Homo sapiens: one gene and its partners. The protein of the gene in region 1 purifies or fractionates together with the protein of each later gene. This does not show direct contact. Each region holds a gene or a part of one and is shown in the gene's direction. Other genes may lie near its edges.

The links.
Region 2: the proteins of SFXN2 (region 1) and ALDH1A2 purify together in Homo sapiens (affinity purification with mass spectrometry; one large-scale study listed by BioGRID and IntAct). This does not show direct contact.
Region 3: the proteins of SFXN2 (region 1) and ROCK2 purify together in Homo sapiens (affinity purification with mass spectrometry; one large-scale study listed by BioGRID and IntAct). This does not show direct contact.
Region 4: the proteins of SFXN2 (region 1) and TOMM70 fractionate together in Homo sapiens (co-fractionation; one large-scale study listed by BioGRID). This does not show direct contact.

The regions. Positions count from the first base shown.
Region 1 is NC_000010.11:102,720,822-102,724,755, forward strand, and holds part of SFXN2 (sideroflexin-2), read left to right. Parts: intron 1-3,934. UniProt on the Homo sapiens protein: Mitochondrial amino-acid transporter that mediates transport of serine into mitochondria. Involved in mitochondrial iron homeostasis by regulating heme biosynthesis.
Region 2 is NC_000015.10:57,952,689-57,955,514, reverse strand, and holds the end of ALDH1A2 (retinal dehydrogenase 2), read left to right. Parts: intron 1-245; coding exon 246-318; 3' UTR 319-2,086; downstream 2,087-2,826. UniProt on the Homo sapiens protein: Catalyzes the NAD-dependent oxidation of aldehyde substrates, such as all-trans-retinal and all-trans-13,14-dihydroretinal, to their corresponding carboxylic acids, all-trans-retinoate and all-trans-13,14-dihydroretinoate, respectively.
Region 3 is NC_000002.12:11,334,460-11,338,393, reverse strand, and holds part of ROCK2 (rho-associated protein kinase 2), read left to right. Parts: intron 1-3,934. UniProt on the Homo sapiens protein: Protein kinase which is a key regulator of actin cytoskeleton and cell polarity.
Region 4 is NC_000003.12:100,363,017-100,366,950, reverse strand, and holds the end of TOMM70 (mitochondrial import receptor subunit TOM70), read left to right. Parts: intron 1-1,233; coding exon 1,234-1,387; 3' UTR 1,388-3,520; downstream 3,521-3,934. UniProt on the Homo sapiens protein: Acts as a receptor of the preprotein translocase complex of the outer mitochondrial membrane (TOM complex). Recognizes and mediates the translocation of mitochondrial preproteins from the cytosol into the mitochondria in a chaperone dependent manner.

The DNA.
Region 1 (3,934 bases):
TCCAGTTATAGTGGCTACCCAGGAGCACACACACACCATCTTCCAGCTCTTCAGACAAACAGTAATCTAGGTGCTGCTGTGAGGGGATTTTGCAGACCTAATTAAATTCCTCAATTGTTTGGCTTTAAGTTAATCAAAAGGGAGATTATCCTGGGTGGCCTGACCTAATCAGGTGGAAGCCCTTTAAAGGAGGGCTAGAACACCCCTGAACCCCCTCTGAGGTTCTGGACTCTGAGCCATTACCCGCGTTGCTCCCTCTCCCCTGGGATGGTCTGTTGCTGGCCGCCTGCCCTGCTGACTTCAGGATTGCCTAGCCAACAGCCACAGTTATGTGAGCCAATTCGCTAATTCCTTGTGATAAATCAATTTCTATATTTTATCAATATTATATTACGTCAGCATTATATATATTTAGGCCAGGAGTGGTGCATGCCTGTAATCCCAGCACTTAGGGAGGATGAGATGGGAGGATTCCTTGAGCCCAGGAGTTTGAGATTACAGTGAGCTATGATTGCACCACTCCACTCTACCCTGGGCAACCAGCTGAGACCCTGCCTAAAAAAAGAAGAAAAAATTATAAAATCTATATAGATAGATCAACATATATTTATAACATATAAAGTTATATATTTATATATGATTTTATATAGCTATATGAATTATTTATGTTTATATATTATTTTTATATGTTATATTTAAACGTAATTCATGTCTATATAAATAAATGTATATATAAATTTATATATTATAAATATATGTTGCTATATCTATAAATTTAAAAAATTATATATTTATATAGTTATATAATTTATATATTTAGAAAATATATATTATAGTATACAAATATATTTTAGAAATATATAAAATATGTATATGTGTGTGTCATAGCCAGGTGCAGTGGCACACACCTGTAATCCTGGCACTTTGGGAGGCCAAGGCAGGCAGATTGCTTGAGCTCAGGAGTTAGAGGAACTCCATGTTGCCCCATGTTATGTTTTGGTATCTACCTGTCTGTCTGTCTGTAATCTACTGATTCTGCTTCTCTGGTTGAACCTTGACTGATAAAATGTTCCTCTTATACCTATTGCTTAGCAGACCTTAACATTCCGCTTCTTTGAAAGATTCTCTCCTGTTGGTCTCTCCTCTGAGTGCACGTGGGTTCATTTGAGCCCTACCTCTTCTTGCCTGGATTACTGGGGTTCTCGTCCAGCTGGTCTCCCTGCATCCCGTGAGGTCCATCCACATCCTGTTTATTCTCATGACTACCCAGTTTGTTCTTAGTAAACTACATATCTGATCTTGTCACTCTTCTTCTTAAAGTCTTTCAATGACTCCCTGAAGCTTTCAGGCAAACATTTAAAAGCGTCAGCTTTTTTTGTATGACTCCATTTTCTCTCCTCTCTTAGCATATCAATTATACTTCTTTTGAAAACCTTTTTAGTGGTTGCCCAGGAGTCTGCAATGTACATTTATGACTAATCCAAATCCACTTTCAAATAACACTATACCACTGCATGGAGTGTGCAAGTACCTTAGAATGGAGTCCTCCCAATTCTCCCCTCCTGTCCTTGATATTACTGCTGTCATGGATTTCTCTGATCCATAAACTGTAATCACCAAATACATTGTTGCTACTATTGTTTTAAACAAACGTATCTGTTTGTTAACTGTTAACAGTTCAGAATAAGAGAAATAAAGATTTTTATTTGTTTGTTTGTTAGTGTTTTTTCCCAGACAGGGTCTCACTCTGTCGTGCAGGCTGGAGTGCAGTGGCACGATCACAGTTCACTGCAGGCTTAGCCTTAGCCTCCCAGACTCAAGCAGTCCCCGCACCTCAGCCTCCCAAGTAGCTGGGACCACAGGCACATGCAACCACGCCTGGCTATGTTTTTTTCTTTTTTAATTTTTATAGAGACAGGGTCTCACTCTGTTGCCCAGACTGGTCTCAAACTCCTGGGCTCAAGCGATGCTCCTGCCTTGGCCTGCCAAAGTGCTGGGATTATAGGTGTGAACCATCCCACCTGACCAGAAGAACTTCTTTTAACATCTTGTAAGTCAGGTCTGCCAGTGACAAATTTCCTGTTTTGTTTGTCCAAGAAAGTCCTTTTTTTTTTTTTTTTTTTTTTTTGAGACAGGGTCTTACTCTGTCACCCAGGCTGGAGTGCAGTGGCTTGATCTTGGCTCACTGCAGCCTCCGCCTCCTGGGCTCAAGCATTCCTCCCACATCAGCCTCCCCAGTAGCTGGGACTGCAGGTGTGCACCACCACACCTGGCTAATTTTTCTATTTTTTGGTAGAAAAAAAAATACAAAATGAGGTTTCACCATGTTGGCCAGGCTGGTCTCAAACTTTTGACCTCAGGTGGTCCACCGGCCTTGGCCTCCAAAGTGCTGAGATTACAGATGTGAGCTACCATGCCTGGCCGACTAGAAAGTTTTGTTTTTTTTTTTTGACAGAGTCTCACTCTGTCACCCAGGCTTGAGTGCAGTGGCGTGATCTCGGCTCACTGCAACCTCTGCTGCCCAGGTACAAGCGATTCTCCTGCCTCAGCCTCCCGAATTGCTGAGATAACGGGCACCTGCCACTGCGCCCGGCTAATTTTTGTATTTTTAGTAGAGATGGGGTTTCACCGTCTTGGTCAGGCTGGTCTCAAACTCCCGACCTCAGGTGATCCAACCGCCTCGGCCTCCCAAAGTGTTGGGATTACAGGTGTGAGCCACTGCGCCTGGCCCCAACTAGAAATGTTTTAAGGGATATAAAGCAGTTAGTACTTGAGATGATTCTTCTGTAAGATATGGGATAGGTGGAAATGGGTAACGACTAACAGAATCAGATGGTATGCATCCCCAAATAGTAATTCCAATGATCTAGGAAGACCAACATTCCCACACCATCCCTACCACCACAGACTCAGTGTTTCTCAATGAGAGACAGAATTTGTGTATGGAGGATCTGAGTCCAAGCCCTTCTATTAGTATAATTGCATTAATATTATTTGTTTCTTTTTTTTGTTTTAACTTTTACTTTAGATTCAGGGGTACACGTGCAGGTTTGTTACATAGGTAAACTTGTGTCACTGGGGTTGTACAGATTGTTTCATCACCCAGCTACTAAGTTTAGTACCCATTAGTTATTTTTTCTGATCCTCTCCCTCCTCCCACCCTTCACCCTCAAGTGAGCCCCAGTGGGGTCTGTTGCTCCCGTTTTTGTGTCCATGTGTTCTTATCATTTAGCTCCCACTTTTAAGTGAGATATTTGGTTTTCTTACTTATAAATGTGATATTTGGTTTTCTGTTCCTGCATTAGTTTGCTAAGGATAATGGCCTCCATCTTCATCCATGTCCCTGCAAAGGACGTGATCTCGTTCTTTTTTGTGGCTGCATAGTATTCCATGGTGTACATATACCACATTTTCTTTATCCAGTCTGCCATGGATGGGCCTTTTGCATTTGGACAATTTCTACTGACACGTGTTCAGGCTCACTGATTCTTTCCCTGGCCATGTCCAGTCTACTGATGAGTCCATCCAAGACTTTCTTCATCTTTGTTACAGTATTTTTGATTTCCAACATTTCCTTTTGATTCTTTCTTAAGAGTTTCCGGCTGGACGTGGTGGCTCACGCCTGTAATCCCAGCACTTTGGGAGGCCGAGGTGGGCGGATCACGAGGTCAGGAGATCGAGACCATCCTGGCTAACATGGTGAAACCCCATCTCTACTAAAAATACAAAAAATAGCTGGGCATGGTGGTGCACGCCTGTAGTCTCAGCTACTTGGGAGGCTGAGGCAGGAGAACCACTTGAACACGGGAGGCAGAGGTTGAAGTGAGCCGAGATCGTGCCATTGTACTCCAGCCTGGTGGCAGAGCAAGACTCCGTCTCAAAAAAAAAAAGATTTTCCATCACTGCTTATGTTATTTGTCTGTTCTTGTCTGTT
Region 2 (2,826 bases), on another chromosome or scaffold:
ACTTTAAAACTACTTTAAAAAACTTTAAAGTTTTAAAAAAACTTCTTTAAAAACTACTCATGAGATGACAGTTTCTCTGACCCTCAGAGGAAGGCTGGGCTGCGCATACGTGAGGAATTTTTACATGAACATCCCAGGACTTGCTGTTCGCAGGTGATAAACTGCACCTCCCCAGGACTCCCGCTGCACTCACATGCAGCTCCCTGGACTTCTGGTATCTGACCCGGCCCATTTCTGTGTTTCAGGGGAGAATTTGGCTTGCGGGAGTACTCAGAAGTTAAGACGGTGACAGTAAAGATCCCCCAGAAGAACTCCTAAGAAGGCCAAGAAGGAGGATGAAGCCCAGCCTGCACGTCTGTCCCTCTCTGCTTTCTCTGTAGGGCCCAGCTCTCAGGAATACAAAGTTGAGCCACGGTCCTTACTTAAAGATTGAAAAGATAACATGTAGGCCAGGCAGGTCACTGCACAACTAAAGCAAACCAGCTGGGTACAGTTTCTTGGCACTCTGTAAGGGGCCACCTTAATCATACCAAATATTGGGGAAAGTGGGATAAAGGGAGGAGGAGGAGCTAGCAGACACATCCAGTATCTCCTTCTGGAGCACAGGATGAAATAAGGGAGCTGTATTATTTCATGTCTTTGTCACAAAGAACTTTCCTCTCAAGGAAAGGTGACCTTTCTCCTGTCTTCATTTTCCTCCTTCCAGGCCCTCCTCGCTCACCCACCCCTCCCTCTCTTCCAAGGAGATGTCAGCTGAGCTCATTCTGGGGCAGATGTTTGGGCCGGGAACAATTTTTCAAGGTTGTAAAGCCAAATTATCATTTCATGTTATCCATTTCTTCAAAGCAAAACATGAAATGGTTTTAGCTAGAGTCAGACCAGAATGAAAATGCCAGGAGCTGGTACACTACAGATGTAGTAAGAACCTGGGATATTCCTGACCCAATCTGGTTTTCTTTTACCCATAAATAACATGAATGAAAAAAGATTGGGACAATAGAGACTGGAAGTCATCATGTGCAGTTCACCGCTTCTGAGCTTGCTGCAGTTTTGGGGTGTGTGTGTATTAGATTCCTTCTCAGTTATTCTGGAATAAGGCAAGGAGTGGGTTGTTTTTCATAGCTAGATAAGATCTTTTCCAAAGTTTTTCTTAGAACCAACCAAAAAACAATCCGAGTAGGCCCAAGAATTTGATAATGCTGGATGCCTTGCAGACATCATTCAGTTTCTAATATTGGGCAACAATTATTATTAAATGAATTATTTCTGTAGTTGGAATCTGTACCTTCTGAACCTCTACACCAATAACTGCTGCAGGTGTGATTTTGGTCTGTCACACTGTACATCTATCATAATGTGCCCTGTATCTATTGGCAGTGACCTTGGAAAATCTGGCCAAGCCTAGGGGTTTCCTTTTCCATTTGCCAAGTTCCATTGTGCCAGGACTGCCGTGCTCCACTGAGCTCCTCTGTCACACCCCATTCTTGCCCCTCACTGGGCAGGCCATGGCCTACAGCTTGCAGGGAGTAAAGCAGGCCCGCCTCCCTTTCTTCCCATCCACATACTCCTCTTCTGCTTTCCAGTGACTCCACCAGTTTGATGTGGGAAGTGTTAGCTTCCTTTCCTTCTTCCATCCCTTCTTCCATCTTTCCAGCTGTCAAATCCAATCCAGTCTCTAACCTAAATGCAGATCATTTATTTAAAAGTACCAAACATAACCCAGAGTATGTGGAATATGGGCAACATATATATAGCCTTCTGTATTTAACGATCTTCTGCTTCTTAACCGTACCAGTTTTCTATTTATAACTCTTATCTATCCATGATGTTTTAAAGTCTCCACTTGCTGTTATTTACAAACGACAGTGCATTCAGCAGCCCAGTGCCGTGAGCCCTGACAGATGCCGTATTTCTGAGTGCTTCCATGTGAATGCTGCCCTCCTGTAGCATGTGTCCAAGTGGACATAGCCACTAACCAACTAGTTACCTTTGGACTGCAACAAAAAATGTGAAAATGAAGATTTATTTCTTTTAATTTACTTAAAAAGAAACCTCTGTGCTAGCAATAAAGCATTTATATTGTGTACTCCTTGGGATTGTTTGGCTGTGTCTGTAAGTCTTTGGGTCATACTGAGTCTCTTTGGGTCCTTCCTCAGCTGCTGGGTTTTTCAGCTGTGTTGCCCTCTTGGGTAACTGAGCAGAAGCCTGCAAGGGTATTTTTACAGAATTCATTAAGGCAACTGGTAAATGGTATTAAGGTAAACAAAAACCTTATTTTCTGATGCTATTTAAAATCTGTGTGCATGTGTAGTTTAGCTGGCATGTAAGTATAACCATATATGAAATATATGAAATAACAAGTTTCCTTTAGAATAGCCTCCATGAAAACTAAAATGCAGAGCAGTCTATAGGGTCTGTTTTCACAAACGTGGACTACCCGCCGTGAGCTCACATTGCTGATGGCATTTCACAGTAGCTTTATTTTTACTTACTTACCAAAGTGAAATGAAGTCAGAGGCTGATAACCTGATGGAATATTTTTGCAGCTGTAAAAAGAAATCTGTAAATGGTGACCGTACTACTACCAAGATTGAGCTTGTTTTCTCTCAGTGTGTTCTCAGAGTTGCGCTTTTGAGGAGTGGTTCCCACCCTTTAGAACCGCACAGCTCCCCACCTTTCCTTCCAGCCCTTGGAATCTCCACCCAAGTTCCGATCAAGTGAGACAAAAGCTAAACCTAATGAATTAGCCCCAGAGCAGATCTCGCTTGGGGGACAAGAAGCATTGCTGTGGACTGGGGTTCACTGCTCTGTTTGCCAGTAGCTTAT
Region 3 (3,934 bases), on another chromosome or scaffold:
GAGTGCTGAGTGTATTATATATTTTGGCTTGATTTTTTTAAAATATGGAGACAAGATCTTGCTCTCTTGCTCAGGCTGGGATGCAGTGGTGTAGTCATAGCGCACTATAACCTTCAACTCCTGGTCTCAATGATCCTTCCAACTTAGCCCCTCTAGTAGGGACTACAGGCCTGTGCCACTGTAATTGGCTAATTTTTATTTTATTTTATTTTTGCAGAAATGGGGTCTTGCTGTGTTGTCCAGGCTGGTCTCAAACTCCTGGCCTCAAGTGATCCTCCAGCCTCAGCCCCTGAAAACGTTGGATTAGAGGCCTGAGCCACTGCACCCAGCCTACTTTGGCTCTTAATACAGTTGTTATGAAAGTTTTCATTTCTTTTGGGTAAATTAAATACCTTGTAGTGGAATTGCTAACTCATAGGGCAGATATGTGTTTACTTTTTAAGAAACTGATGGCCAGGCATGGTGGCTCATGCCTGTAATCTCAGCACTTTGGGAGGCTGAGGTGGGTGGATCATTTGAGGTCAGGAGTTCGAGACCAGCCTGATCAACATGGTGAAACCCCATCTCTACTAAAAATTAAAAGAAAAAAAAAATTAGCCAGGCGTGGTGGCACGCACCTGTAATCCCAGCTGCTTGGGAGGCTGAGGCAAGAGAATCACCTGAACCCAGGAGGTGGGAGGTTGCAGTGAGCTGAGACTGGGTCATTGCACTCCAGCCTGGGCAACAAGAGTGAGACTCTGTCTCAAAAAAAAAAAAAGAAACTGCCAGATCTTTTTATGAAGTAGTTATACCATTTTATACTCCCACCAACAGTATATGAGAGTTCCAGTTGCTCCACATCTTCCCCGACACTGCTCTTTAAAATGTGATTTCGATTTGCATGATTTGCATTTCCCTCATGATGAATGATGTACTTTTTCTTGCACTTACGGGCCATTTATATATTTTCCTTTGTGAAGCATCTGTTTGAAGCAACATACCTCCATTTTTGCCCATTAAAAAACATTGGGTCATTTATTTGTATTTATTATTGAATCTTAGAAGTTCTTTTGTATATAAAGAGAACACTCTTTGTCAAATAAATGTTTTGTGAATGTTTTTTCCTAGCTTATGGTGTATCTCTCTCTCTGTCTCTTTTTTTTTTTTTCTGAGGTAGAGTCTTGCTGAGTTGCCCAGGCTGGAGTGCAGTGGCACAATCTCGGTTCACTGTAACCTCCACCTCATGGGTTTAAGTGATTCTCCCTCCTCAGCCTCCTGATTAGTTAGGATTACAGGCATGCACCACCACACCCGGCTAATTATTGTATTTTTATAGTAGAGACAGGGTTTCACCATGTTGGCCAGGCTGGTCTCCAACTCCTGACCTCAAGTGATCCACCCGCCTTGGCCTCCCAAAGTGCTGGGATTACAGGCACAAGCCGCCATGCCTGGCCCCATATCTCTTTTTTTAATAAAAATTTTTAATGGTTGTTGCTTTTCTGCCCAAGTAATTGTCGCCATCCTCATGTCGTGAAGATATTCTCCTTTGCTTTTTTCCAAAAGCTTTATGGTTGACTTTTACATTTAGGTCTAGGATACATTTTAAGCTAAATTTAATGTGTGGTGTGAGTTAGGGGTTGAAGTTAATTTTTTTTCTCCACATAATTATCCAGTTATCCAGACTATCCTGCACCATTTTAAAAAAATTAAGTTTTCTCATTGGATTGCTTTGGCACCTTTGTTAAAAGTCAGTTTACTGACAGTTGGACTTTTAAATTTGCTTTTCTACCACCTTAGTAGCTACACCGGATCATCAGTCCTGGTTCTATTGTTTAACCCATGCTCAATTCAAAAGTCATTTCTTGGCTGGGCACAGTGGTTCATGCCTGTAATACCAGTGCTTTGGGAGGCTGAGTTGGGAGGATTGCTTGAGGCTAGAAGTTTGAGACCAGCCTGGGCAACATGGTGAGATTTGTCGCCTCTACAGAAATAAAAAAATTAGCCAGGCATGGTGGCACAAACTTGTGATCCTAGCTGCCCAGGAGGCTGAGGCAGGAGGATGGCTTGAGTCCAGGAGTTTGAGACTGAGTGAGCTGTGATGGTGCTGCTGCACTTTAGCCTGGGTGATAGAATGAGACCCTGTCTCTGGAAAAAAAGTCATTTCTTTTTAGTTTTATCTGTACCTGAGGGAAGTGACAACCAACTATGGCTGAGAGGGAAACATAGATTTTATTTTTTAAAGTGAAGAAAGATTTGTCATTTTTTAAATTATAAAAATAATATGCTCTCGTTGTAGAAAATTTAGGGAGCATAGAAGGGTATAAATGCTAATAGCACTTATCTACAATCTCCTTCCTTAGAGATAATCACTGTTTAAATTAACATTTTGGTTTATATATCTTAACTTATATGTATTTAAAAATTACAGTATTCATGTGCTTTATCTTTTTAAATATTTAATGAATAGTATGAGTTTTATATAGTCACAATTATCAATCGTTTCACTGTAAAGTGATTTCTGGCTTAGTGGTCATGTTTAGGAAATTCTCTGTTACCAGGATTATATCATCATATACCTGACTTTTTGTTCTCACATGGCTTTATTTTTATTGATATTTTCATTTCATTTGGAATTCTGATGGAAAGTATGAAGTAGGAGTTCAAAGATTATATCAGGAGATTGAGATTTGTCTAGGTATTAAATTTCCCAAAATATTAATTGGGAGTTTCTGTTTACATCTCTTTATTATACTTTCTATTTGGAGAGTGGTGATTGGGGTGAGAAAAAAGGTTTAATGATTAAGGTCTAATGATTATAGGTTAGGTCTCTATTTGGGCCTCTTGAATTTCTTCATGAAAATACTATACAACTATACTTAAAACTCTAATTTGTTAGTGATAAGGATTACTGGTGGAGAGAATGTGGATGACTCAGTGCAACTTACAGCTTTTAAAAATAATAAAAGAACATTTTCCCTTGGTGGACTAGCATATGGAGCTTACTGTTTAATAAATTGATGTGAAATCATGGTGCATTTGGGGCTCAACTAAAACTATACTCACTTTATCCTTAATTGGAGTCATTTTTCTTTCCTCTCATCTGTACTCCTGCCCCCCTTTAAAGTATTATTAAATTATATAGATATTCTTGTAAATTCTGCAGTTAGGTTTTCTAAATGACCCTCACATATCTTTTCAAAAAGCATTTGGGTCACAATACTTAGCATTTCTCTCATTCCCCGCCTTCCCCTTCCGTGTGTGTGTCTGTGTGTGTGTGTGTGTGTGTGTGTGTGTGTGTGTGTGTGTATCAGTCAAAGGGAACTATTTGGATTCATTTTTAGTTCATTGTCAATAATATTTTGGGGAATGTTTCTAAGTCCAGGAATGATTTTATGGTTTGGTACTTCATTTTGGTAAGGTATGGGCTGTTTGTTCAGATATCTAAAGTGCTTTATAATTTTTTTTTGTCATAGGTGATTGACCACTTATATTCAATGTCTGAATTCCTTTATTCTCTAAAAGAGTTTCACCTCAGATTTCTTTAGTTATAAAGCAAGTGATAGACATTTTATTTTCAAGGGATTATAGACTTGGAACAATTTCTAATGTTTAATTATTGAGGTTTCTATGCCATGGAAATGAATTAGCGAAGTGTTCTCTAGCAGTACTTTATTTAGATAGAAACGCGCCAGAGCAGGGCTGGTATTGTCTTAATTACCTGCATGATTGTGTTGACAAATGCTTAATATGCTAAGCATTGCCTTCATATATGCTTCTTGGCTTTTGAGTTTATTTTTATTTAATGCACAGAATATGAGCTCTTTTAGTACGAGTCTTTTATGTTTTCCTATTCTGTAAATATTTGTTGAATGAACTAACAATTTTTTTTTTTTTTTTTTTTTTTGAGACAGAGTCTCTCTCTGTCGCCCAGCCTGGAGTGCAGTGGCACAATCTC
Region 4 (3,934 bases), on another chromosome or scaffold:
ACTGCACCCAGCCTAAATTATTTCTTAATTGCTAATTTGTTAATGTGAATAAAATATTCTTGTACTAGAATAGGATAGGGTGGTAGTTCTTAATCTTTTTTGAGCGAAGCTGTGGATTCTTCTTAGAATAATGCACACAAAAACACTTTGCTTTTAATTCAAGGCTTTCATAGATCCTGGGTTAACTAAAGACCTCTGATAGGGTTTGATGGAATTTTGTTCACGTTAATTGAACTTTGAAAAAATCCATTCTGAACCTTACAATTAAATAAGTGAATTTGAATAAATGAAATTGCAGATTATCCTAGGATTTTGCAGATCTGCTAGCTGTTGGCCTAATGCCAGAACATGAACTCTTGAAAAAAGTTTTTTTTAAAAATAAGCCTATCACGTTGCCATATATTATAATGGGGGATTAAATATAGTCACCCTAGTGGTACCTCTTACTGGCATATAAAGTCTAACTGGCACATATGCCAATAAAATGTACCTTACTAACATGTATGCCAGTTAGACTCTGTATATGCAGGTATATATATATATAGTAGGGACTTAATATTCTTTGTAGGATTGCATATATATGTAGCTAATACTAGTTACTTAAAACAGTTGGTTCTTAGATAGCTGTGGATTTGACCAGAATCAGGCAGAGGCAATAAATCTGAGTATTTATTGAGTAGGTGTGAGGAACTCACATAGACTGCCTGAAGAGTAGAGATGCATGGGGTTGGGGATGTGCTGGTAAGAGATGAAACAGAAAGAGGTGGGCCCACATCAGTCTGTGAAGGTAAGGCCCTTGCATGTCATTAGTGTCCCGGTATTATGTCACTGCTTTCTAAAGGAGTCTCATGTTAACAGTAGAAACATGTAAAATTTAGGAACCAGACGGAATTGTGATTTTAAATAAGCCAATCAATTTCCCTAGTCTGACTGTTCTTATCAGTAAACACAGAATACAAGGGATATAATGTAAGCACATAGTATTTGTAATAGTAGTTGACATTCATTGAGTGCTTTCAATGTGGTAGGTACTCTTGTTTATTTTAAAAGAAGCATTTTACTAGAATCATAGTAGAAACTTAGTGGTCAGACTTCATGTAGCATCACTTACAACCTTCATTGAATATTGTGAAGAAACTTAGTGGTCAGACTTCATGTACCATCACTTACAACCTTCATTGAATATTGTGAAGTGCTTGTTGAATCTGAGACTTAAAAATTTTGTTCTTTTAGAGGAAACATGGAGAAAGCCATTGACATGTTCAACAAAGCTATTAACCTGGCCAAATCGGAAATGGAGATGGCCCATCTGTATTCACTTTGCGATGCCGCCCATGCCCAGACAGAAGTTGCAAAGAAATACGGATTAAAACCACCAACATTATAAAACAGGGGGAAAGCAGACTGACCCTCTTTTTAAAAGTTTACCCCCTCTTCAACTGAACCCTAAAGACACTGTCATGAACTGTGTTGAATGGTGGAAATCAGTATTTCTGTTTGTGGTGTTGTTATTTGTTACATCTGTTTCATGTCTAGGTGTTGTGGGTGTGGCTGTTGAAGGAAGTTTGCAGTCTTGCAGCTTTTATTCCCTGTGCAACAAAAGATTAGAACATGTTAAAGGGATTTTTAAATAAAGTTGCAAAGAGTACAAATGATAATTGGCCATGCAAATAAAAACTGATTTGTTGATTTTTTTTTTAAGGGGGGTTGGCAGTTGATTATGTTCTGGATGATTCCGTCTATATATGTGTGAATAATGTAAGTATTTTACAGCATGTTGATTTTTAAATTAACGTAGTAAATGCTGTAAAATAGATTTATATTCAGTTAACCGCTTTCAGTTGATTTTTTGAAAGAAACAAAGGTTAAATGGGGGATTAAAGTAAAATTGAGAGACCCTTTAAACCATTGTCAGCATGCACAATGCCTCTGATTCTGCAGTTTTAGAAACTTGGTGGCACTTATTAATCCTCTTGGCCCCTTTCCACTCTAATGGATAGTGTACATTCTTCTTAAAGTCCACAACAGCAGATTTTCTTGCAGTAAATTATGCAGATGCAAAATATTCTAATTGATATATGTGTTGGAAGACTGAGTATTGATGGGGGAGTGGACCAGACAAAGAGGTAAGATGAAACAGTAGTGTGTTTATAATTGTCTGTGACTATTTTCTATAATAATTAGTACTATTTAATGGTGAGCTTTTAAAAATGTAGGATAGAGGGTACAGTGGCACTGTATATACTATTTATAGTCTCAGCTACTAGGGAGGCTGAGGCAAGAGGCTTGAGACCAGGAGCTCGAGGCTGTAATGTGCCATGATGATTGCACCTGCGAATAGCCACTGCACTCCAGCCTGGGCAATATAGCAAGACCCCATCCTTTAAAAAATTTTAGAACTTTTTTAAAATCAAAGTGCAGATTGCTTGTATGTAAAACCCAAATAAAGGTAGAGTAAGTGTGATATATGGGAGTATTAAAATAGCTTAAAATTTCTCGTGAAGGACATGTGGCTAAAGGGTCAAAAAGGATGTAAGACTTGGAGCCAGAGCATAGTATTTCCTGAAATAACAAGTTTAGTGCTTTAACTATGGCTACATGTGCTTAAGGAATTTTGAGCCACTTATTTTTGAAGATGCTGAGGACATGTAGAGTGCTTTTTGTAGTGAGCTAACCTTGATCTCTAAGGACTAACTACCCAGGTCCAGGTCTTCACTAGGGGTACTGACAGTGTTTAAGCTTTACTCCACCTCCTTACTTAGAAATCACTTTACGATTTATTTCCATTTTCCACTTTTATAGACCATCCTTTTGCTTATATGCTAGATTTTTCTGGTGAGGGAAGGGTTGTGTTCTTCAGGGGTCTTTTGTTTTGAAATACTCAGGATGGGGAGAGGTTTATTTAAGAACGAATTATAATTATGGTTTACACTGTTGGGAGTAAAGGAGCATTTTTACACCCCTTAAGGGTGCTTAATTCTGTTGAAACCAAAAAGATTTGTCTACAAATGCTATCTTTTTTAGAAACTATTAGAAATGACTCCCTTTCAAAGTCAATCTTTGGAAAATATTGAGGAGGTCACTAATTAGTTGGTGCAGTTAATATAATTCAAGATGATTTGGATGATGGGAAGTTTGAGACCGCTGCATTTTGTTTTTAAATTATGCACCTTCTGATAACCCCCAAATACAGAAATGTTCTACATCTCTGAATGACCTCTGACTTTAAAAAAGTTTTTATTTGCATGGCTGTATTTACATTAACACTGACATTTTCTTCTACTCTTCTCCCTTCTTTCATCTTGGGGTTGGGTAGAGAAACACAAAGGAAACTGAAGCATGTGCCATTCTATACTGTCATTCCAAATTCTCATGGACTATTGCCTGTTGTGAAAATGTTTGAAACTGCACTGAAAGCTGCATCTGTCTGTATCTTTCTTTTGTAAATGACCTCACATGTAAATTCACCAAATAAATATTACATTCAAGCTCTTCTATCTATTCTTTAAATAGAAAGATAGGTAGTTTAGGCTGGGCATGGTGGCTCACACCTGTAATCCCAGCACTTTAGCAGGCCGAGGCGGGCAGATCACGAGGTCAGGAGATCGAGACCATCCTGGCTAACACGGTGAAATCCGTCTCTACTAAAAATACAAAAAAGTAGCCGGGTGTGGTGGTGGGCGCCTGTGGTCCCAGCTACTTGGGAGGCTGAGGCAGAAGAATCATTTGAACCCGGGAGGCGGAGGTTGCAGTGAACCTGCTGAGATCACGCCACTGCACTCCAGCCTGGGCAACAGAGCAAGACTCCGTCTCAAAAAAAAAAAAAAGGTAGTTTATTCATTTATTATGCTATTGCGTAAATTCACAGTGAATCTCTTGTGAACTCAAAATAACTTTGAAAATAGGAACATACAGGAAATGTTAGCATATGAAG